Regions from separate parts of the Homo sapiens genome. Here region 1 is linked to region 2. Evidence: fine-mapped expression QTL. A gene starts in region 2. The other region holds a variant in brackets. All regions are shown on one strand. Distances are between the middles of the regions.

Evidence for each region. PIP is the estimated chance that this variant, and not a neighbour inherited with it, causes the effect.
Region 1: its variant is the best candidate, but not a certain one, in a credible set for the expression of ERMAP in thyroid (GTEx, PIP 0.53).

What each region holds. Positions count from the first base shown.
Region 1 is chr1:42,832,260-42,844,560 of GRCh38, forward strand. It overlaps ERMAP (erythroblast membrane associated protein (Scianna blood group)), which reads left to right. Exons shown (of 12, transcript NM_001017922.2): 5 at 2,779-2,895; 6 at 3,473-3,505; 7 at 4,899-4,931; 8 at 6,642-6,662; 9 at 7,774-7,794; 10 at 7,893-7,919; 11 at 8,011-8,037; 12 at 10,258-12,301. The coding sequence ends at 10,973. It overlaps ZNF691-DT (ZNF691 divergent transcript), which reads right to left. Exons shown (of 5, transcript NR_186083.1): 2 at 12,252-12,301; 3 at 11,145-11,191; 4 at 10,516-10,657; 5 at 9,636-9,754. LOC124904163 (a long non-coding RNA gene) reads right to left here and starts at 5,400. Exons shown (of 2, transcript XR_007066035.1): 1 at 3,581-5,400; 2 at 1-2,872. The variant C/A (reference allele first, on the strand shown) is at 6,438.
Region 2 is chr1:42,810,198-42,822,498 of GRCh38, forward strand. It overlaps ERMAP (erythroblast membrane associated protein (Scianna blood group)), which reads left to right and starts at 6,925. Exons shown (of 12, transcript NM_001017922.2): 1 at 6,925-7,056. SVBP (small vasohibin binding protein) reads right to left here and starts at 7,200. Exons shown (of 3, transcript NM_199342.4): 1 at 6,993-7,200; 2 at 6,234-6,383. The coding sequence starts at 6,347. RefSeq lists silencers at 6,074-6,143, 6,704-6,903, 7,054-7,343.

The DNA of each region.
Region 1 (12,301 bases), 22 kb after region 2:
TGGCTCACTGCAACTTCGCCTCCTGGGTTCAGGTGATTCTCCTGCCTCAGCCTCCTGAGTTAGCTGGGATTACTGGTGCCCGCCACCATGGCCAACTAATTTTTTTTTCTTTTTTCTTTTTTTTGGAGATGGAGTTTCACTCTTGTTGCCCAGGCTGGAGTGCAATGATGCTATCTGGGCTCACCACAACCTCCGCCTCCCAGGTTCAAGTGATTCTCCTGCCTCAGCCTCCCGAGTAGCTGGATTACAGGCATGTGCCACCACGCCCGGCTAATTTTTGTATTTTTAGTAGAGACGGGGTTTCTTCATGTTGGTCAGGCTGATCTCAATCTCCCGACCTCAGGTGATCCTCCCACCTCAGCCTCCCAAAGTGCTGGAATTACAGGCATGAGCCACCATGCCCAGCTGAAAAGTAATTTTTAAAAGGGGACCGAGGTGCCCACAGGAATCTGAATCATGTGATACAGTTATTGCTATGGGTGAATTTTTAAATGTCTGAGAATAAAGCTAGAGACTGGCTTATCCCATTAGGAGGAGCGTGGGGAGAGAGTGGAGAGAGGACAAGTTCCATTAACAGCTGCCCCTGTTCATCACAGGAGGCTATGGGGGAAGAGGGCCATGGCCAGGACCATACCCTGGCAGAGGCCCTGCTGGTGTGCAGATAGGTGGGATGGTTCCCAGAGCCCTGGGCCAAGTGGAGAGAACCTCAAGGCAGGGTACTTCCATCCCTGTCAGAGGCCCACTCTCTGGAAAAAGCTGGGCTCTTCCAAATAGCAGTGTCTAGCAGAGTCAGGGACAGCACACTGGGGAATGTGTCCTGAACCATCCACAACATGGCCCTTGGCCAAGAGAAGACCACAGCTGTGGTCATAACAAGTAAAAGCTGGGGTGGAAACAGGTTTGAAGGCGCTGGTGGTTCCTGAGGAAATTCCTACCCTAGCAGGAACTTTTTGAGGAATTTTCAATTTTTTTAAATTCTAAGAATAAAGCATATATATTGTAGAAAATTTGAAAAAAATCCAAAATATTTAAAGGAAACTGAAAAATGGCCTATAATAGCTTAAATTAGAGAGAACTGCTGCTAACATTTTTGTATCTTTCTTGCAAGACTTTTTTGTATATATGTATCTCTGAGCATGTATGTTTACACATGTGTATTCTTGTGCCCAGGATATTTTTCCACTTATGATATCATGAGCATTTGTTTTCTTTGCCCATGTCCCTAAGTAATATGATTTTAAGGGCTGCATAGTATTTTGCCATGTGGCTATAGAATAATAAAATTAATCAAAGCCCTGTTTCTGGGCATCTGGATGCTTTCCAAATTTTCCTCATATTATAATGAAGGGTGCAATGAACATCTTTGAACGTATTTTGGAAAGTGATTTTGATTTTTTTTTTAATAATGTACTTCTGGCAGTAGAATTAATGGGTCCAAGGGTTCAAACCTTTTACTTATTTTTTCTTTTTTATTTATAATAAAGATGAGCTCTCACCATGCTGCCCAGGCTGGTCTGAAACTCCTGAGCTGTAGTGATACTCCTGCTTCAGCCTCCCAAAGTGCTAGGATTACAGGTGTGAGTCACCACACCTGGCCTGAACCTTTTAATGATCCTTGAAACGAACTGGAGACCAGCCTGGCCAACATGGCAAAACCTTGTCTCTACCAAAAAAATACAAAAACTAGCCAGGCATGGTGGCATGTGCCTGTAATCCCGGCTACTTAGGAGACTGAATGCTTTATATGACTGACCTCTTTAAATCTCTCCAAACCTCAAAGAGATAAGGAGTCCTGTCATGCACACATTTTACAGATGAGGGACAATGGGCTGGGAGGTGCTCAGTCTCCTGCTTTGGGTCACACAGCATTGAGCAAGGACATACTCCCAGCTTAGGCTCTTAACTACTTCTACCCATAGCCCGCTTCTGCTCGTTTCCTCTCCTCTATTTCCTCTTTCTTTTCCCCTTTCTCTCCTGCCTAGGCTTCAGGCCTACTGCTGCGGCATCATAGAAATTGCTTTGCCCCCGTGGACAGTGCTCAGGGCAAAGAGGTTGCTGCCTGCTCTTCTAGAGCAGAGTGAGGATTGACAGGGGTAAACAGGCAGGTGCTCCTGGGAAGACTGGAGGTGTGTAGTGAGGAGAGTGCCTTCAGTCCTCTGAAGTCCCGGGCTTATTTTTCCATTGAATTATAGGGCAGGATGAGATTGTGGTCAAGAAGTTTGTTTAAGTCATCATCTTGAGGCAGGACCATCCAAACCATTCCCGAGAGAGGAACATCTCAGTTTTTGTTTGTTTGTTTGTTTGTTTGTTTTTGAGATGGAGTTTCACTCTTGTCACCCAGGCTGGAGTACAATGGTGTGACCTTGGCTCACTGCAACCTCTGCCTCCCGGGTTCAAGGGATTCTCCTGCCTCAGCCTCCTGAAGAGCTGGGATTACAGGTGCCCGCCACCACACCTGGCTAATTTTTGTATTTTTAGTAGACACGGAGTTTCCCCACATTGGCCAGCTGGTCTTGAACTCCTGATCTCAGATGATCCTCCTGCCTCTGCCTCCCAAAGTGCTGGTATTACAGGCGTGAGCCACCGTTCCCAGCCTCAGTTATCTTTAATGCTATCCAGGGCTTGAGTTATCAGAGAAGCAAAGAGCCTCTTGGCCGGAGCTCTCTCCCTAGAGGTGATGGAGAGTGTTGGGATGTGCTGGAGCCGCCTGCCATCTGAGGCATGCCAGAAGCTCTTAGACATCTCCCTGAGGTCAGTCGTTGGTGGTTTCTGTTTCAGCCCCATCTGTGGGGAGTCTCTCCCCCTCAGCAGTGGCTCTGGCTGTGATCCTGCCTGTCCTGGTACTTCTCATCATGGTGTGCCTTTGCCTTATCTGGAAGCAAAGAAGAGCAAAAGGTAATTAAATGGTAAGGGAGCTCAGGCTGGTGGGAAGTGGGACTATGACTGCTCTGGGAAAGGGCCAGACGGAAGTAGATGTAGACCTGACACTTCTCCATAGGTTGGGGACACTGCAAGTTGGCTGGGAGAAAACTGGTAGAGCCATGCCCTGGGGACACACATTGCAAAGGGAGTTCAATAAACTGCAGAAAGGCCCCTGGGCAGAGCTGTAAATTCTCATCCTTTGAAAAATAAGAAAATAACCGACTATGCCAGCCTTCTAATTAACTAAGAAATGAATTACAGCCCTTTAATAAAGAAATCCAATTATATCCATTGGATAAGACTCTCATAAAAAATGGTCACATTTCACAGGATCTCAGGGCTGCAAGGGACTTTGAAAGTCACAGTCATGTAATCCAACACTCCTGCCCTTATCTGATGGTTTGAAGACTCTCTAATCCTTTCAAATGCCCGCTTACCTGTAGTGACAAGGAGTCAGTCCTACTCAGGCAGCTGGGGGCATCTTGGGACACTTGTGCCTGTTAGAAAAAGCCCTTCCTAAGCTGAGCTGGCATTTCTCTCTCCCTTTTAGAAAAGCTTCTCTATGAACATGTGACGGAGGTGGGTAAGTGTTCTTGGCTGGGGGGCAGGGGAGATGTTTCTTTTGTTGTTAATTTCTGTGCCCCCCATACCCACTAACCTGGATTCTGTTCCTGAAAATTCCATTATCTGCTATCCTTGGTGATGGTGGCAATGTCTAAATCCGTTGCTTCCAGTTTTTACTGCCTCTTACTTGTAATAGCTTTGCCTTCCTGTATGTTTAATGATTTTTGCCTGTGAGCTCATTGCTTGATCTTATTCTATGGGAGTCGAGTAGCTTGAACATGGGGGAAGCTTTTATTTGTTCAACAAATACTTGATAATTATCTACAAAATGCCCTGGACAATACTAGATTCTGGGGATGCAATAGTGAGTAAAAGCAGACACAGTTTTTGCCCTCCTGGAACTTTCAGTGTAGTCAGGGAAATGAGATGAATTAAATAGTTAACACAAATAAATGTGTACAAAAGCTACACAAGAAAGCTCCTGGTTCTGTGAAGGCTATGACCAGAATGAACCAACCAAGCTTGAGGGTTGAGGGTATGAAGTTTGTCCTGAAGGACTAGAAGTCATGAGTGAAGAGGGAATGGAAAACCAGCCACCGCAGAAAGAACAGCTTCAGAGAGAAGCATGGTCGGGGAAAGCAGCACTCACTGGGGAGTTGAGGAGGTGCAGGAGTGAGGGGAAAAGTGGCAGGGGTGAGGCTGGGGAGTGAGGCGGAGCTGAGCCTCCTGAGGCCTGGTGGGTCACATTCAGGATTTTAGTCATTCTCGTAAGAGCAGTGGTAAAGCAAGGAATGGGGATATCAGATGTAATTGTGCTTTGAAAAACTTGGCCGGGCATGGTGGCTCACGCCTGTAATCCTAGCACTTTGGGAGGCTGAAGAGGGTGGATCACCTGAGGTCGGGAGTTCAAGCCCAGCCTGATTAACATGGCGAAACCCTGTCTCTACTAAAAATACAAAAATTAGTGGAGCATGGTGGTGCGTGCCTGTAATCCCAGCTACTCAGGAGACAGACAGGAGAATTGCTTGAACCCCGGAGACAGAGGTTGCAGTGAGTCAAGATCGTGCCACTGCAATCCAGCCAGGGTGGCAGATTTTTAAAAAAAATCTGCAGTGAGTCAAGATCATGCCACTGCAATCCAGCCAGGGTGGCAGATTTAAAAAAAAAAAAAAAACTAAACAATTCTCTCAGGCTGCAGAGTTTAGTAGAGACCAGAGGGATTAAGACAGGATGTGGGAGACAATTTGGGCTGCCATTTCTGTTGTCCAGGTGAGAGTTGATTAGAGACCGGATCAGGGAGGTGGAGGTGAAGATAGAGGTGGACAGGTCCAAGGGCAGGTAAAATCAATAGGAATCAGGGATCCTCAAGGCAGTGGCAAAAAATCTCATTATCTTTTCCTTTCTTCCTCTAGACAATCTTCTTTCAGACCATGCTAAAGAAAAAGGTAATGATATAAAAGAGTAAGGGGTAGGGAACAAAAAACACATTCTTTATTTTTCTATGTAAATGTTGACAGTCATTATTATAAGTCTATTTTTATAATACTGTACACACATGCACACATATATCCTCCATTGATATTACTGGAATTTAGTGTGCAATGTTAAGGGGCTGTGGAGCTTGTGGCAGTGGGTAAGGAGGTGCCCAGGTCAAAATTCACAGGCCTAGATTACCATAAACTCCCTTCATTAGCCTTTCCGCCAACCATTTTAAAAAGAAGTCTACATATTATTGAAAAGTATATTAATGTGGTCATATGGGATATATGGGAATTTCAAGAATCCACACAACCTTTGCATAGAGAGAGGTGGTATGATACAAAGGAAGGGTCGCAGGCTCTGGGGTCAGTGACACCTCAGATCATTGGTCTGCCACTTAGGTTTTGGTTTCCTCATCAGCAAAATGCAGATAACTTCCCCTTACCTGATTGTTTTCAGTGTTAAAACAGGCAACCTTAAAAAAAAATCTGTCACAGTGCCTGGAACTCCTTTTCCTTATTGCCATTTTGTCTTCATTAATTTGACATTTACTGTGGGCCACTGAGTTGGACACCTTGTTGAAGTCTATCTGGGAAGACAAGTCACTGGCTCAGATGACTCCAGATTCAATGATGTCAGCGTCTCCTCTCTTCCCTCCTTACATTTCCTCCAAGCTGGTGCAAGCGTGGCGTGTATCTGGCAGACACTGGCTGTTCTGCTCAAGTGAAGAGGGAACAGTGTGGGGTAAGGGAGAGGGCCTCTAACTCAGGAGTCAGACAGACTTAGATTGAATCCTGCCTCCTTGGTCACTTACTAGCTGGAAGACCTTGGGCAAATTTTGTGTCCCTTTGAGCCTCAGACCACCCCCCTATAAAATGGCAATAATAATTCTAGGCATCTCACATTATTGAGAGGATTCAGTGCCTACTTCAGTATAAGCACAGCAGACAGTAAATGGAAGCTGTTAGTAGTGGAGATGGTAACAATAAACCATAAGCTCCTTAGGAGCCGTGTCGTATTCGGCTGCATTGCTCCAATGCCTAATGCCTAACACATGCCCGGCCCTTAGCACAGGGACTGGTGGTGGACTCAGGATGTGTAACTTCAATTGTCTAGCAGGGCCAATGCTGGGTAGGGGGAAATGTGGGCCACATGGCCCTCCAGAGAAGCTGCAAGTACTCCCCAGAAACACATGTCTCATACACATGTCCCCAAATCTTCTGGGACCTCCAATTTGTGAAATTTATAACCTCAGGGGAGTTACTGTAGAGAATAATACAGCCATATTAACAAGTTCATGCTAGGCCTTTAGCTAGTTTTACACCTTAGATACCATAAACGGTGGGCTATAAAAGGACAGCAGTGCATACACTCATGTACCGCAGTTACAAACATATAGAAACACTCATGCCGACAGCAGAAATGAAACCAGACAGATGAAAAGGAGGGGAAGGGGAAGGAGGAACCAAAGT[C/A]CCGGGCAGGCTGGGTCACTGGGACAGTGTCACCAGCACCATCAGATTTCTGGGTCTGAACTCTGGGACACGGAGCTGGACTAGGGACATAGAAGCGTCACCATCATTTTAATCTTGTGGGTTGGAGTGATGAGGCTGCCACAGCTCTGAGGAAAAAGAGGCAGGATCTGATCACTCACTCTTCTCTCTCTTTCTGGTTTTTAGGAAAACTCCATAAAGCTGTCAGTAAGTTTTGCTCCTCATCCATGGCACAAGCTCCTTCTGCTGACACTTTTGCTTTGGGATGAGCATCTCAGTTTCACTTCCTGGGGCAGAAGGGAGGGGGTACTGGTAATTCAAGCCATGGGGACTGGGGCTTTCTTGGCTCTCAAAGGCCTCTTTTCTCAAGTATTCTCTGCTCCTCTTTCCTGCACAACTATTATTTAGTCTTTAAATGAAAAACGTTTCACCAGGAAGAGATAGATGCATCTCCCATAGGTGAAGCCATCTGGAAGTCCCTTTTATCACCCAGGCATGACATTTCCTTAGATGGGGTCCAGGAGGACAGGATCCTTATTAAACTGAATATGCTGGAGCAGTACTTCTCCATCATTTCATGTGTGAGGACCTCTTTTTAACATTAAAAAAAAATCTGGCCAGGTGCAGTGGCTCATGCCTATAATCCCAGCACTTTGGGAGGCCAAGGCAGGTGGATCACTTGAGGACAGGAGTTTGTGACCAGCCTGACAACATGGTGAAACCCCGTCTCTATTAAAAATACAAAATTAGCTGGGTGTGGTGGTGCACGCCTGTAATCCCAGTTACTTGGGAGGCTGGGGCAGGAGAATCGCTTGAACCTGGGAGGCGGAGGTTGCAGTGAGCCGAGATTGCACTATTGTACTCCAGCCTGGGCAAAAAGAGCGAAACTCCATCTCAAAATAAAAATAAAAATAAATCTGTAGACATGTGACATATCTATGCATTAATTATTACATTGAGAAAATATACATGATCACAAAGTCCAATACTCAGTGATAGTTTTAAATGAAGTAATATTTCCTACAACATCTACATAATTTATGTTGTCATTACCTGTAGGTGTGAGATGTGTTATTTATTTAGCCTGCAGATAAGGTTTGGCTCACATAGGAATTTGCTGATCCTCTGCAGTATCTCTGGGGATACTCCCATGGTCCACAGCTGGGATCTACTGCTCTTGCAAACTCTTCTGGGGAAGTTCCAGGGTATAGCTATTGAGTATCTGTCTGCTCATGGTTGGGATGGGACTGTAGCATTATGGGAGGGCCTCTACATAGAGGCCCTCCTTCTGATTTGCCAAATTGTTTTCATTCTTTAGAGAAACTCCGGAGTGAACTGAGTAAGTTTCCCATGTTCTTGTAACTTCCGTACCAACTTATCTCCTGTTGCCCTAATATTTGCAGTGATAGCTCATTCCCCTTGTTTCTTCTTTCATAGAGTTGAAAAGAGCTGCAGCAAACTCAGGTGAGATGCACTTTCTCCACATTTGACCACCACCCTACAGGAGTTCTTGATGTCTCTGGTACTTTAATGATCCCCTTTTCTCATTTTTCAGGCTGGAGAAGAGCCCGGTTGCATTTTGGTAAGTTATACCAATCAAATAGGTCCATATCTCAGAGCACTTCCTCCTTATGGCTTTGTAACCTTAGATTTTGTTCCATTCCTCTGGAATGCAGGTAATTTAAAAATTTTTAAATCAAATCTGTATATCTGACTATCAAATTAAAAAAATCTTTGTGATCGATCTTGAGGTCATATTTAGATTTAGAAAGTATCCCCTCTTTTAGAGCACTGATAATATTAGGTTTGGTCTTCTTAAGGGTTTTCTGTGGTTTTTGAGATTTTTCCTATGTTTATCAGTTATTTGTATTTCTTCTTTGTGTGACTTGTCTGTTCCTGTTCTATTTGGGCTTTTTTTTGATTTGTGAAGACTCTTTCTAGATAAAGTATATTAGCTCTTTGTCATATTTGTCACCATTACTTTTCATTTGTACTTCCTTATAGTATTTTTCTGATGCATAAGTGTTTTATTTTTACGTAGTCAAATTCATTCATCTTTTTCTGTGTAGTCTCTTCCATGCTTTCAGGTTTGGGAAGTCCTTCCTATCCCACAACCAGATAAATAGCCACTGCTTCCGCCTCTTTCTACACATTTGCTTTTTCTTCTTTCTCTGCAGACCAATTTGCTTAGGGGTGGTGATTGAGATTCTCAGAGAAGAAGGGAATGGGTTGAGCAGATGCCCCAACAATATACATTATGAAAAGATTTGCACCTCTCTTTCAATGTATTCCTAAATAGTTTGCATTTTTTGCTGCTGTTCAAATGGGACCTGTTTTTTTCACTGCTTTGGGATCCTTATCAATTTTCTAGGCTTTTATCCTCCTCCTGTTCACACCATCTTCCTTCAGGCAGAGTACAACAAATTATGAGTTGGCCACTCGAGAGAACTCCAGGTCACCTTGGCTGGCATTCTGGGAACTTACAAACCCTTCTGTCTCACATTTACAGTCTGGCTTATTGCCACCATCTCAACTGTGTATGGTTTATAGACTTAACTCTCTAAGAAGAAGCTGTTTCCTGTATTTGGGGAAGGAAGGAGACTCACTGTGACACTCATAATCCACAATTTTAGGGAAGAATCCTTCTCTCTATATTAACATTTAAAAATAATAATTTCGTCCTACGTACTTGGGAGGCTGCAGTGGGAGGTTCACCTGAGGCCAGGAATTCAAGGCTGTAGTGTGTTATGACTGCATGCCCATGAATACCTACTGCATTCCATCCTGGGAAACATAGTGAGACCCTTCCTCAAATAAAATAAAATAAAGCAGATAATTATAAGTAATAATTTTAGGTGACAGAATGAATATCATGCACTCACTGTAGGAATGAGGCACTATATCATTAGTTCATCAAGTCTGCACAATAGCTCTACAACACAGGTTCTGTTACTATTTCCATTTTACAGATGAGGAAACTAAGGTTCAGAGATGAGTAACAAGCCCAAGGTCACATAACTAGCATGTGGCAGAGCTGGGATTCAAACATGCTATGTGGCTACAGGATCTAACAACAAACCCTGTATTTATCATCACACATTTGATTATTTTGGAACATCAAAGACAAATGTGGTGTCTTACTCTGTTTTCTGTTGCTATAACAGAATACCCGAGACTGGGTAATTTATCAAGGAAAAAGGTTTATTTAGCTCATGGTTCTTGGGGCTGGATGGTCCAAGATTGGGCGACTGTATCTGGTGAAGGGCTTGTGCTACTTCATAGTATGGTGATAGTTGCTTCTGGAAGAACAGAAGGGCAAGTGAGTGCCTCCAAAAGCAGAGAGGAGACAAAGTGCCCTGACCTGCTTTATCATAACCTGCTCTCCAGAGAAATAAACCCAGTGTTGTGAAAACTGCATTCATCTCTTTGTGAAGGACCCAAACACTTCCCACTAAGCCCTACCTCTGAACACTGCAGCAATGAGGGATTAAGGTTCCAACACGTGAACTTTTGAGGGACACACTTAAATCATAACAGGTAGTTATTTCCTGAGGATTAAAGCAGTTTCACAGACAGATGAAGAAGAACTTTTTCTTCTATTACTTAGTAATCGACCAGGAGACCTATTCTTTGAAAGAGAATATTCTTTGGTTCCAGTACACATGGTGGGGGCGGGAATCCATGAACTAAAATGGGCTAATGACAGTGATGGCAGACCTAAGATTCTTTTTCCCTCCAAAGCCATCCCCAAATCCCTTAAGACCTATACTTCCAAGCCTCACCTGTCTGTGTCTCTTTGCAGTGGCAGTGACCCTGGACCCAGACACAGCACATCCCAAACTCATCCTTTCTGAGGACCAAAGATGTGTAAGGCTTGGAGACAGACGGCAGCCTGTACCTGACAACCCCCAGAGATTTGATTTCGTTGTCAGCATCCTAGGCTCTGAGTACTTCACGACTGGCTGCCACTACTGGGAGGTGTATGTGGGAGACAAGACCAAATGGATTCTTGGAGTATGTAGTGAGTCAGTGAGCAGGAAGGGGAAGGTTACTGCCTCACCTGCCAATGGACACTGGCTTCTGCGACAGAGTCGTGGGAATGAGTATGAAGCTCTCACATCCCCGCAGACCTCCTTCCGCCTTAAAGAGCCTCCACGGTGTGTGGGGATTTTCCTGGACTATGAAGCAGGAGTCATCTCTTTCTACAATGTGACCAACAAGTCCCACATCTTTACTTTCACCCACAATTTCTCTGGCCCCCTTCGCCCTTTCTTTGAACCTTGCCTTCATGATGGAGGAAAAAACACAGCACCTCTAGTCATTTGTTCAGAACTACACAAATCAGAGGAATCAATTGTCCCCAGGCCAGAAGGGAAAGGCCATGCTAATGGAGATGTGTCCCTCAAGGTGAACTCTTCTTTACTACCCCCGAAGGCCCCAGAGCTGAAGGATATAATCCTGTCCTTGCCCCCTGACCTTGGCCCAGCCCTTCAGGAGCTCAAGGCTCCTTCTTTTTAGGGATATGCCACATTACCTGCTCCCATCACCATCCAGCCCAGCACCCTGGACTTCAGTCGCCTGGCCCAACCCCATGATTATGGAACGTCTCTTCACCTTAACCCAAATCCAGACCCTTTTGTGGTTTCTATTTGTACCACTTTTCTCCCAGGCCTCAGTTCTGAAGCTTACCTTTCTTCTAAGGAATTGAAGCTCCCAGTGACCTGGAGGGAGGATTCCTGGAAACCAAACAATCAGTTTAGGTGCAGGTGGAGATGTTGAATATGTGTTACCAAGATACAGCACAGGTTCAGGGAAAAGAGTTCGCTACTCCAGGGGTTATTTAGAAGACACTTTCTCTGCCTCATCCTGCCCTCAAGCTTTAGTCAAGAAGTTATGGCCCCCAGTCCCTGACTTCTTACTTATCCCATTGAGGACTGCCTTTCTCTCTCTCAGTTCTGGCCTCTGCCCCCCAAAGTCAGCTCTCTAAAAGCAAGCATGTTTTAGACCACTCACTCTTTCCCTCTTTCTTCAGGAATGAATTGGGAAAGGCTGATGAGTAAAACATACCATCCTTTTCTATTTTCTTGATGCTGTTTACAACATAGTTTGGTGATATCCAGAGCTAATGTACATGCTTTCAAAAGCTAATCTGCCTGTTGATGGTAACTAGGTACAGCGACTTTAAATACAGTTGCTATAATCCTGAAAAGCCCCAGGAGCACATCAGGGAGCTGGGAAACACAGTTGCAGAGAACTCAGCTGTATGTTGCCCTCTGACCTTGGCCCAGACCTTCAGAGGCTCAGTCTGTTGAGTCTGTTGTGACTGTCTTATGAATCAATCTGTTGTGCCAACCCTTTCTGAGATTCAGAGAGGTCCAGCTAGAAAAAGTGGCAGTTTTAACCACCAACGTAGAAGCTTTTTTTTCCCCACAAGACCATTGTACTGCAATACTTGAGTATTTGTGTAGCAAACAGCCTCTTAGGTTGGAGAGTATTGATTTCAAATAGGAAGTTGGTAGACTAGGTGTGAGGATGAAATAATGACCTTGATTTTTGGGTGTGTATTGCAGAAGCCTCGTCGCTTTCAAGTCACATCATATATGCGATCTGGCCTAACCATGGAGATATTGGTTATCAGTTTGCAGATGAATACACAGTTCTATCCAACAGAAACTGTATCTTTCTGTTTGTCAGAAGTTCTCCGTTAGTTCCTGTATTAGTCAAGGTTTTCCAGAGAAACAGAATCAATATATATTGGGGCAGGGGGGCGGTGGTTATTATAAGGAATTGGCTCACGTGATTATGGAGGCGGTTAAATCCCAAGATCTGCAGGATAAGTCAGCAAG
Region 2 (12,301 bases):
GAGTGCAGTGACCCGATCTCAGCTCACTGCAACCTCCGCCTCCTGGTTCAAGCAATTCCCTTGCCTCAGCCTCCTGAGTAGCTGGGACTACAGGCGTGCACCACCGTGCCTGGCTAATTTTTTGTATTTTAGTAGAGACGGGATTTCACCATGTTGGCCAGGATGGTCTTGATCTCCTGACCTCGTGATCTGCCCACCTTGGCCTCCCAAAGTGCTGGGATTACAGGTGTGAGCCACTGTGCCCGGGCCCACATATATACATATATATTTGAAAACCTCTGCTTGCTTCATTCACTAAGTATTTACTGAGCATTTTTAATCTGCACATTACTGTACTAGGGACTGAGATGCAAATTAAATAGCTTCTCAGAGACCTCCAGATCAAGGAGGCAAGATGGTAGGAGAAAGAGGAGACTCACAATGGGTCAGGGTGTCCAGGCCAAAGAATGACTCTCAGTCAAGAAGGAAACGGACCCTAGCAGTGTCAAACGGTGCTTCCACTGCCAATGTGCCTTCCGTTCCCATTCACCTCCCACATCTCTCCTTCACATCTAACTTTCTGGAATCTGGCGTCTGCAGAATTGAATAGAAACTGTCTCTTCCTCCCCACAAAGGGTCTTGTTGCATTACATTCCAGGCAATAAAGATTAAAAACAAACAGGATAGGCGCGGCGGCTCACATATGTAATCCCAGCACTTTGGGAGGCCGAGGTGTGCGGATCACTTGAGGTCAGGAGTTCGAGACCAGCCTGACCAACATGGTGAAAGTCCATCTCTACTAAAAATACAAAATTAGCCAGGCATGGTGGCGGGTGCCTGTAATCCCAGCTACTCAGGAGGCTGATACAGGAGAATTGCTTGAACCTGGGAGGTGGAGGTTGCACTGAGTCGAGATCGTGCCACTGCACTCCAGCCTGGGTGACAGAGCGAGACTCCGTCTCAAAACAAAACAAAAACACCAACCAACCAAACAGAAAAAAAAACAGCAAGGCAGCTGTAGGGGGCAAGGCAAAAAACAACAGACAAAAGTCAGAAGATGTTTAGACCACAGGCCTGCCCCTCTTTAACTACAGGACTCTACTCACATCCCTTTGAAGTGAGGATAATACTGCCTACCTCACAAGGCCATATATTTTACATATCGGATTAACCAAGGTTAAATGGGAGTCACAATAACTCCTGCTTTGGAGCCCTGGTGTGAGGACTACATGTGGCTATGCATGTGTAGGCTTGGCTCGGTCCTGGCACATCTCAAGAGCTGCACGGGGCCAGCTGCTGCTTGAGTGCAGCAACGTTGCATTTCAGCAGGTCAACAGGAACTCAGCAGTTGTTCAATTTAGGGTCCACACAATAAGAGCAGGCTGCCTGCTTGGAAACACAAGATTATTCCTGATCATAATCACTGCTAGTTATCAAATGCTTCCTCTGCCAAGTACTGCGCTATGGGCTTTACACGTGGTATTTCTATTCCTTTTAATGGTCTTCTGAGGTAGATGTTATCCTCATTTTACCAAGGAGGAACTGATGAACTGGGGGTTCAGAGAGGTTAAGTATCTTGTCCAACGTCACATGGAAGAACTGGGATTTATGGAGGAGCTGAGATTTGAAGTCAGACAAATAAATTTAACCTATAGAACTTTACAGAAGGGTGTCAATAAGGGCATGAACAATGTCCTCAACATCTATCCTTACAATATGCACAGAGGACAGTTTCATAGGGCTGTTTTTTTTAAAAACGGATTTTAACATAATTACTATGTGTACATAGACAATTAAGAATAGGGAAAAACCCCAAATTAATGTTTTAACAAGTTACAAGCTGTTACTAAAGACAATATCCTTGGATTTAAAAAAAAAAAAAAGAGTACAATAGAGGAAGTCTCTCATTCAACCGAGCAGTTTAACCAATCTCTTTTAATAAATCCAGCACATTACAGTGGTATAAATTTATCTTTTTTAACACTCCACATAAAAACATGTGTCCTCTCTTACATTTAATCATTAGTAGTCTCTAAAATGGTAAAATAAATTGAATTTACATTAGCAAATGAAAGTGCAAATTTGTACAGCTAGGCTCAGCAGCAAAAGTGAAGAATAAGAATGAAAGGTGAAAAGCTGGTGGATGCCATGCAGAGCGAGGACTTCCATAAAGGTCTGTGCCCTGCGGCCAAACACAGTCAACACACCACCATTTTCTTGTTGCTCTTAAATGAGCAAAACCAAATTTCTTTTTTATTTAATGAAATATTAAATCTTTATTTCCCCCTAACATAATTTGTGATCAAGTAGGACAGAGGTAAGTCCCACCATCACTGGGGACAGTAGCAACACACAGACTTCAGAAACAGCCTTGAATCATCAGTAACATCCTCCCCTGGTAACGTTAGAAGGAATGCATCTAATGACAAATTTGCAATGTTGTCACATTGTTCTAATTTATTTGATTAGTTTATCTGGAAAAACTTTACACATTATTGAAGACAACAGTAAATTATTTTCTTGCTCTGAAAAAATAATGTTTTTTCACATTTTAAAACCTTTTAGTATGCTTTTGCAAAAGTAGTTGCAAGAATATGACAGCTGGGTTTGCAGAATGTCCATGTACAAGTTTGTATTTATAAGAAACTGGTAATCTGCCTATAATTTGCCTCTACAAATAGAGCTCTTTAAAATAATATTTTTAAAAAAACAGGCTTAAACTTTTCCCTATTCATTCTACTTGTAGCAAAGAGGTACTTACTTTTCAAGTATTACATGGTAAAAGGCACAAGTTTTTTTTGCCAATTTTAAGCTGTTAAGCTTTAAGACCAAACTATGTGAAAAAAAATCATGCCTAGTCAATCCTAGTCAATCATTTTATAGCCAAATCCTCTTGTCTTTTAAATAACGCAGAAAAATACTAATTTGCTAAGAAGGAGCACACTGGAAAAAGCCATTTGAAAGTACTGAAGAATGAGGAGTATTTTTTTTCTACTGATGAAAATTATTAGGAAAGCTATCCTGTCTGTTGTCTTTAGCTAGTTTAAATAAATCTTTTCAAAATGATGGTCAAGAAATCTTTAGAAAACTGGAAGAGGGGATGCTCTTTTATAGCATGAAAGGAATTCCATTAATTATAGAAATTCTCGTTAAATTTTGACGTTGGTTCTTCAGAAAAAATACGCATTTAACTTCTGCAGTCTGTTGTGTTTGAACACCATCTACCTGAGCCAGGGGCCCAAGCGTTCCTTCATCATCAAAGGCCAAAACTGGATTCAAAGGAACTTCTGGGCTCTTACTGTTAGTGACATCTAATCTGGATGGTTTCGATCCAATGGGTAAATTTATAATTTCTTCAAAATTTTCATTCTGAACAGAGATACTCCATTTTCATTTGGTTTTCCAAATTGGGGGTGCTCTCCACAGTCACTTTTGATTGGTGTGAGGTAACCACATATGGGCTGGCAACTGGTTCTCCATTTCCCAGAGCATTTGTTGTACACGGAAGTATAGATAGCTCTGTTCCTCCAGTGAGAGCTCCCTTGGCTATATCACCATTTCTCTGATCAATGGTTTTCTTATCTGTAGCTTCTGTTCTCCTGCTTCAGGGCTGTTTCTTATAGCAACCCTCATATTGTTCACCAAAGCACAATGCAGTCATATCATCTGAGGACCCGGATCCAGGTGGGAATGGGAAGGTAAAGGACCACAGCTCTCAGGGGGTCTGCCTTAACCCAAAGGTAGATTTCAGTTTACAGATTAACTTCAAATGCACTAGTAAGTTTACTTATTATGTTTACTGCCTCCCCTTGCTGGAATGCAAGATCCATGAAGGCAGGGATTCTTTTCTGCTTTGTCATCATGTGACTCAAATTCCTCGAACAGTGCCTGGCACATACTAGCAGTTCTTTTTCTTTTTTTTTTGTTTTTGAGACAGAGTCTAGCTCTGTCGCCCAGGCTAGAGTGCAGTGGCACAATCTCGGCAACCTCCGTCTCCTGGGTTCAAGCAATTCTCCTGCCTCAGCCTCCCGAGTAGCTGGGACTACAGGGAGCACCACCACGCCCAGCTAATTTTTTTTTTAGTAGAGACAGGGTTTCACCATGTTGGCCAGGATGGTCTCAATCTCTTGATCTCATGATCCGCCTGCCTCGGACTCCCAAAGTGCTGGGATTACAGGTGTGAGCCACTGTGCCTGGCCAATATTTAATGAATGAATCAGGTTAACAAAAATTAAAAGTTGACAATATCGGCCGGGTGCAGTGGCTCACACCTATAATCCCAGCACTTTGGGAGGCCAAGGCAGTGGTGCACGCCTGTAATCCCAGCTACTCTGGAGGCCGAGGCAGGAGAATTGCTTGCACCCGGGAGGCAGAGGTTGCAGTGAGCAGAGATCACGCCACTGCACTCCAGCCTGGGTGACAGAGCAAGACTCCGTCTCAAAAAAAAAAGAGACTCACCATCAGAGAAATGCAAATCAAAACCACAATGAGATACCATCTCACACCAGTTAGAATGGCGATCATTAAAAAGTCAGGAAACAACAGGTGCTGGAGAGGATGTGGAGAAATAGGAACACTTTTACACTGTTGGTGGGACTGTAAACTAGTTCAACCATTATGGAAGACAATGTGGTGATTCCTCAAGGATCTAGAACTAGAAATACCATTTGACCCAGCCATCCCATTACTGGGTATATACCCAAAGGATTATAAACCATGCTGCTATAAAGACACATGCACACGTATGTTTATTATGGCACTATTCACAATAGCAAAGACTTGGAACCAACCCAAGTGTCCATCAATGATAGACTGGATTAAGAAAATGTGGCACATATACACCATGGAATACTATGCAGCCATAAAAAGGGATGAGTTCATGTCCTTTGTAGGGACATGGATGAAGCTGGAAACCATCATTCTCAGCAAACTATCGTAAGAACAAAAAACCAAACACCGCATGTTCTCACTCATAGGTGGGAACTGAACAATGAGAACACTTGGACACAGGAAGGGGAACATCACACACCAGGGCCTGTTGTGGGGTGGGGGGAGGGGGGAGGGAAAGCATTAGGAGATATACCTAATGTAAATGACGAGTTAATGGGTGCAGCACACCAACATGGCACATGTATACATATGTAACAAACCTGCATGTTGTGCACAGGTACCCTAGAACTTAAAGTATAATAATAAAAAATAAAAAATAAAAAGAGACTCCATCTCAAAAAAAAAAAGCAATGTGGCAATGTCTAGTAAAATTGAGAATGTACCCAGTAATTTTTCTAGTTAAATAACCTACAGAAATTCTAAGGCAGGTGCCAAAGGAGACACCTAAAAGCTTTTCACTACAGCAATGTTTGTAATAGCAAAAAATACTATAAATAATTTAAATGTGCATCTCTGTAAGAATGAATAAATATACTAAGTAAAATGGATGCATAAAATAGACTATTATAAAAATTAATGAGAATAAACTAAATTCTTATATTGGCATGAATAGTTCTAAAAAACAATGTAAGCAAAATGCAAAATAAAATGCAGGAATTTTATTAATGTAAAAATTTAAAATACTACTGTATATTGTTCAAGGATATCTATTAATATATTTGAATGTAAAAGTATAAAAAAAAGTAGTTGTCCATGGAGAAGTAAAAGGATGTAAGACAGGAAATGAACAAAGCAGACAGATAAACAAAACAAAGAGGGAAAAAGAGACCAGCAAGATTTTCCCTGACATTAAATACTAAAATAAAATACTTATGTCTGTATGTGGCTCAATATTGGCAGGGTAAAGTTTAAAGCTTTTTATTCTCAAGTTGATTGTAATCGTTGAGAGAACAAAGGAACACACTGGTGAGTTTAAAGCTTGGGCCTCTACCTGGCATGAGTAGCTGCTTTCCGCACCAAATCCAGAACATCTGTACTGGGGGTGTCTGACACTTGCGTGCTCTCTCTCATTCTGACCCCTTCTTTCCCCTTACATATCATTTTTTTTCCTTTCTTCCTTCCCTTGGGTCTCTTACCACAAAAGCTCCGCACCAGACTGGGGTTCTGACACTAACTTGGCATGTGATTCTGGGCTGCCACCTCACCATTCTGAACCTCAGTGTTGTCCCCTCTAAACCTGGGAGAACACCCATCCTGCCTGGAGGCAAGTATGGCTCGCTGTCAGTTCTCCTTTCTGCTGTTTCTCTATTCCAGCATCATCTCCAGCAGACTACAGGCATACAGAGCCTCCGCCTTAATCTCACCTCTGCTCTTTGTCTCTGCTTCAGCTCCTGCTGGGCTGATTTCTGTTTGGCCTTCTCAACTCTGCTGACAGATTCTTTAACTTTGGTTTTTTCTTTACGTGCAGGTGGATCCATGGCTTGACTTCTGGATATTTCTTAGGAGGCTCTGATCTGGGTGGTACAGAAAGAGGCAGATCTTCAAAACAAAACAAAACAAAAAATACCCTGCCAGTTACTCCTCTAATCCTTTAGCTCCGCCCCATCCTTTGCCAGGTGAGGCAGAGTGGTCTGGTGGCAAGGGCGCTGGATGTGGGGGAGTAGGAACCGAGTCCCAAGGCCACAACCTCGCTGGGTGTCCCTGGGCAAGTCTCCTCCCCACTTTGAGCCTTAGTTTTCTGTCTGCAAAATGGGTTAAGTGTTTTCCTGGCCTCCCTCCAGGAGCTGCTGTGTGCGGGTGAAATGCAAAGACCCCTGTGAAAGCGTTGCCCACTGTGCGGCGTGCGGCACCCAGCGCGGAACCGTCCTAATGGGACGCTGAGACCCAGAGGGCGCCCAGGGTTTTCCCACTGCGGCCGGCCTAACTCCGCCGCAGCAGCCGCTCCTGGGGCCAGGGGGCCGGGCCCCATAGCCAGCCGGGCCCGCCCCCCACCGCCCGGCCCCCCGACCCCGCCCCGGCCCGCCCGGCCCCAGGGGACGGCCCCCGCCTCCTGCCCTCTTCCCTCTCCTGGAGGAAAATGGCGGTCGCTGGAGCCGCCGACCAAGAGGCTTGGGAGTCTGTACCTTTCCCGACCGGGCCACTGGAAGTTGGAGCCTCCGCCGAGTCGCAGACAACGCCTCCGGGAGGGTAATCCTCGCCTTCCCCCGACCACTGGACCCAGCGCTGCCTGCCCACCGCCCCTCGTCCTGGGCGGGGCCGCGCGCCGGGGGGAGGGGCGCAGGGCCGAGCGCCAGGAGGCTTCCGCCCGCAGGAGCGGCCGCGCGTGCGCAGAGAGGATGGCTGGAAACCCGCGTAGAGGGCGGGGCGGGGCAAGCCGGTGCCGGGGCGGGGCAGGGGCGGAGCCACACCGGGGTGGGTGGTGGTTACGGCTAACCAAAGCTTTTTCCCGTTATATTTTCTGCAACAGCTACTAGGTTTTAGAGGGTGAGATCCGAATCCTGGAATTGGAATTGCTCAGAATTCGAATTCCGAGGCTCAATTTCTTAATTCGAAAAGTGGGGATTGATGATTGCCACCTTCTTCATTCATGAGTTTATTGGGAGGATCAAGTGAGATCCCGTTTGCCACAGTGCTTTGAAAAAGGAAATCTTGACAGAAGTACCAATAGCCAGTATAAATACAGAGAACATTCACGTTCAACTGATTACCGAGGAGATGTAAATTAAAATAGCTGGCTGTAATTTTCCAGGTATTACATTAGCAAGGATTGACAAAAATGATAATAGCTACCTTACATTTGGGCTTACTATATTCCAGGCACTGTTCTTACAGCTTCACATTTATTAACTAATTCCTCATAATAAGTGTGTATAATGTATACGTGTATATTATTATCCCCATTTACACATAAGGGAACAGAAGCATTGAAAAGTTAAGTGAGTTGTCCCGGGTCACACAGCTTCTAAGTGCTGGAGCAAATATTTCAGCCAGGATTCATAGGACAATGGCCTTATCCAAAGTAAAACCCTGTTTGGGTCCACTATTTGTTCCTCTATCAAACTGGCAAGAATTGAAACAACTGATAGATGCTAAGCAAGCAATGAACTCAGCCCAGATGGACACACGCTTCCAGTCAAACTGTAAATCGTTAACAGCCTTTCTGGAGGTCAGTTTAGTACTAGGTATCAAAAGCCTTAAAAGTGAGCACAATGCCCCAAAAAGACAAATACTGCATGTTTCCATTCATATGAAGTATCTAAAGCAATCAAAGTCTAAGAAACAGAAAGTAGAATGGTGACTGCCAGTGGCTAGGAGAGAGGGAAAAGAGGAATTGTTTAAAGGGTATAGAATTTTAGGTTTGTAAGGTGAAAAAGTTCTAGAGATCTACTGCACAATGTTTATTTTTTATTTATTTAATTTTTAAAAAATAGATGGGGTCTTGCTCTGTCACCCAGGCTGGAGTGCAGTGGTGTGATCATAACTCACTGTAACCTGGGCTCAAGCAATCCTCCCACCTCAGCCTCCAAAGTATCTGGGACTACAGGCACACACCATCATGCCTGGCTAATTTTTTAAAATTTTTTTGTAGAGATGGAGTCTCACTGTGTTTCCCAGGGTGATCTGGAAATCCTGGGCTCAAGTGATCCTCCTGCCTCAGTCTCCCAGAGTGCTGGGATTACAGATGTGAGCAATTGCGCCCAGCTTTTCCAAAATTTCTACAGTAAACGTTTATACTTTAGCAATCAGAGGAAAGTACATTAAATGTCTTTTTAAAAACCCTATACAAATGCTGATTCGATTATTATTAATAAAAGTAACCAAGTCAGAGTCTATTTCAGAAATCTTGATGTAGTACTGGTATTTTACATTTGTGTCACATGGTATGGTTTATAACGTTCATATAAGCTATGAACTAGATTACAGCTGAAGACACGGCAGGACCTTTAGAAGCCAGCTAAAAACAAACCAGCTATAGGGAATGGAGGAGTGGAAAAGCCACATGGAAGACTGGAAAAGTAGTGGTGCCACTGAGCCACTGTTGAAAGTGGAGAAGGTGTGATGAGTTGGTTTGGGAAACGGTGAGGAAGAGGATAAGTTAGGAGCGTGTGTGTGTGTGTGTGTGTGTGTGTGTGTGTGTGTGCGCGCGCGCAAGAGAGGGACCGAGAGAGAGAAAGAGCTAGATTACGCTTCAAGTGGCAATAGGCAAGAAGAATTGTCCAGTGAGCAATTAGAAGATTTCAGAAAAGAACGGAACTGGAGATACCAGTTTGGGATTCTACATTCTTTATTGGGAAGGTGAAGGTTGGAGCCAGGAGGGAGTGAATGTTGAGGCTGAACACTGTCAAAGTCCCCTCTCTATTCTTTCCATGAGTTTATGCTTTGTCTGTCTCTTTTGTGTCTACCAGTGGACTCTTGGCCAGGCTGCAGAATTTCCTGGTTTGTTGAATGACTAGCAAGAGTTTATAGTAATATAACTAGAATATTTTTACAGTTGAGGTATATACTACACTAAGATTATATTCACTTTATTGAATAATATTTTTTCTAGAGTCAAAAAATTATCTATTTTTATTTGCTTAATGATCTATGCATCCCTTGTTTATTTTTTATTTTCAGAGGTGGGCTCAAGTGATCCTCCCGCTTCAGCCCCTCAGTGGCTGGTACTACAGATGTGAACCAGGTCATTTACCAGTGTCTTTTTTTTTTTTCTTGGCAGCATCCCTCCTTAGACTCATCCTCTCTTTGCTCCAAACTCCTCTGCTTAGCCTTGCTTCACAGCTCTTGTCCTAGGATTAGGGACCTAACCACATTCTGGGGATTCTCTTCTTGTTTCTCCTGTGCCAAATCCCCTGCTCTCTGGATCTTATGTTTTTCCATTCTTGGTTTATTCTCTCATTTTGGAGGAGTATGTTCTCCACTAACTCCCCAGAAGGGGTTCATGGAAGCTAAATTTTTGAGTCCTTGCTTGTCTAAAAATGGCTTTATTTTCTTTCATCCTTGAGTGACAGATTTCCACATTGGAAATTATTTTCCCTCAGAAGTTTAACGGCATTGATTCATTGTCATCTAGCTTCTCATGTGGCTACTCTTGAGGAGACTGATTTATTCTGACTTGTGTTACTTCCCATATATTTTGTTTGTTAATTTGTTAATTTGTTTAGGATATTTTTCTCCTTTATCCTTGATGTTCTGAACGTTCATAACAAACTGTCCTTTAAGTATTTTTCATTCATTATGCTAAGCACTCGGTGGCCCCTTTCAATTGGGAAACAAAGTCTTCAATTCTGGGAAACGTTCTCTGTGATCAGTTTCTCTTTTTTTTTTTTTTTTTTTAACAAATAGAGACAGGGTCTCCCTATGTTGGCCAGGCTAGTCTTGAACTCCTGGCTTCAAGTGATCCTCCTGCCTCAGCCTCCCAAAGTACTCAGATTACAGGCATGAGCTGCTGCACCCAGCCAGTTTCCCTGTTTTTAAATTTTTCTTCATGTTCCATTTCCTGGTTTTGTTTATTCTAATTTACAAGAGATTTTCCTGAGCTGTATCCCCTGGTTCTTCTATTGAATTTTTTCATTTCTGCTACAAAAATGTTAATTTCCAAGAGTTTTTGTTTGATCCCCGACTTTCCTTTTTGGTAGCCTCTTGCTCTTATGTTGTGGATTCAGGATCTTCTCTTATTTCATATTTCTGAGGATTCCAGTTGTAATTTTCTGCTGTTTTCTTCTGCTTCCTAGATTGTCTCTGTTGTTTATTTTGGTCTCTGGCTTTCAAGTTGGAGCTTATCCTCAGACAATAACAGCTACCATTGAGTATCAGCCCCTATTTTAAGTATTTTGCATGTTTTAGCTAATTTAATCCTTACAACAACCCCGGGAGGTAGAGCCAGGCCCTGGTCCCTCCCATCCCAAGCCTGGAAGGTTCTCAGTTGAGAATCAGCTTTCTTCTTGCTGATGTCAAGGGTTGATGTCAGGAACCCTTTATCTGATGTTTCCCCCAATCCTGCCTCCCTCTGCAGGCACCTGGGTTAGAGTTCAGTTTTTCCTAGCTCTATTACTAGTGAGCCCTCTGCTTTCCTTCATTAAAGAAATGTATTGACATCTCTATTGCACAGTTACTTACTGTCCTGTTCTCTTTGTCCTTATAGGCTTTTCCTTTTGCACTCCAAGATTGTCATTTTAGATCATTTTGGGAGGTAACAGAGATAAGCATTTGTGTTCAATGAGACATGTTTATTTAACTGGAAATCTAGAGCTCCCTCTTTTTAAGTCAGGAAGCATATAGACCAAAAAAATTACAGTGATTATTACTGGATTCTGAGATTACGATTATGAGTGATATCTTTATCTATGTCTGTATCTGTTTTTCTCACTCATAGAGTTAGAAGTCTAAAAAGAACATTTCAGATAAGAAACTCATTTTATGATGTGATTTAGACTATCTGATAAAATGCTTCTGGAGAAAGCAGTAAAAATATTAATTATGACAAGTTATAAATTGGTACAATTACTTTGGAAAACAATTTAGTATCATCTATAACCTGGCAATACTACTTCTAGGTATATATTCTGAGAAACGCTTTACATTTAAAAATTATTGAGGACCTCAGGGAGCTTCAGTTTATATGAGTTATATTTTTTGAAATTTTCCATATTAAAAATTAAAACTGACTGGGTGTGGTGGTTCATGCCTGTAATCCAGCATTTTGGGAGGCCAAGGTGCGAGGATCACTTTAGGCCAGGAGTTTGAGACCAGCCTGGGCAACGTAGTAAGACCCCATCTCTACAAAAAAATTTTTAAAAATAGCTGGGCTTGGTGGCATGCACCTGTAGTCCTAGCTACTAGGGAGACTGAGGCAAGAGGATCACTTGAGCCTAGGAGTTCAAGGCTGCAGTGAGCTATGATTGTGCCTTTGCACTCCAGCCTGGGCAACAGAGCTAGACCCTAGCTCTAAAAAAAAAAAAAAAGAAAACTAAGAAAAATTAAATATAATTACTACTTTTAAAAATAAAAATAATAAATTATATAACAACAAAACATATATTTATGAAAAGCAACTTTTTTGAAACAAAAATATTACTGAGTAGCACTGCTTTATATTTATATAAATCCTTTTTAAAAAATTAATTTTTTTTTTTTTAAGATGGAGTCTCACTCTCTCGCCCAGGCTGGAGTGTGGTGGTGTGATCTCAGCTCACTGCAACCTCCACCTCCCAGCTTCAAGCAATTCTTGTGCCTCAGCCTCCTGAGTAGCTGGGATTATAAGCGTGTGCCACCACGCCTGGGTAATTTTTGTATTTTTAGTAGAGACAGGATTTCGCAATGTTGGCCAGGATGGTCTTGAACTCCTGAACTCAGGTGACCCGCCTGGCTCAGCCTCCCAAAGTGCTGGGATTACAGGCGTGAGCCACTGCACCCAGCCCTAATTAATTTTTAA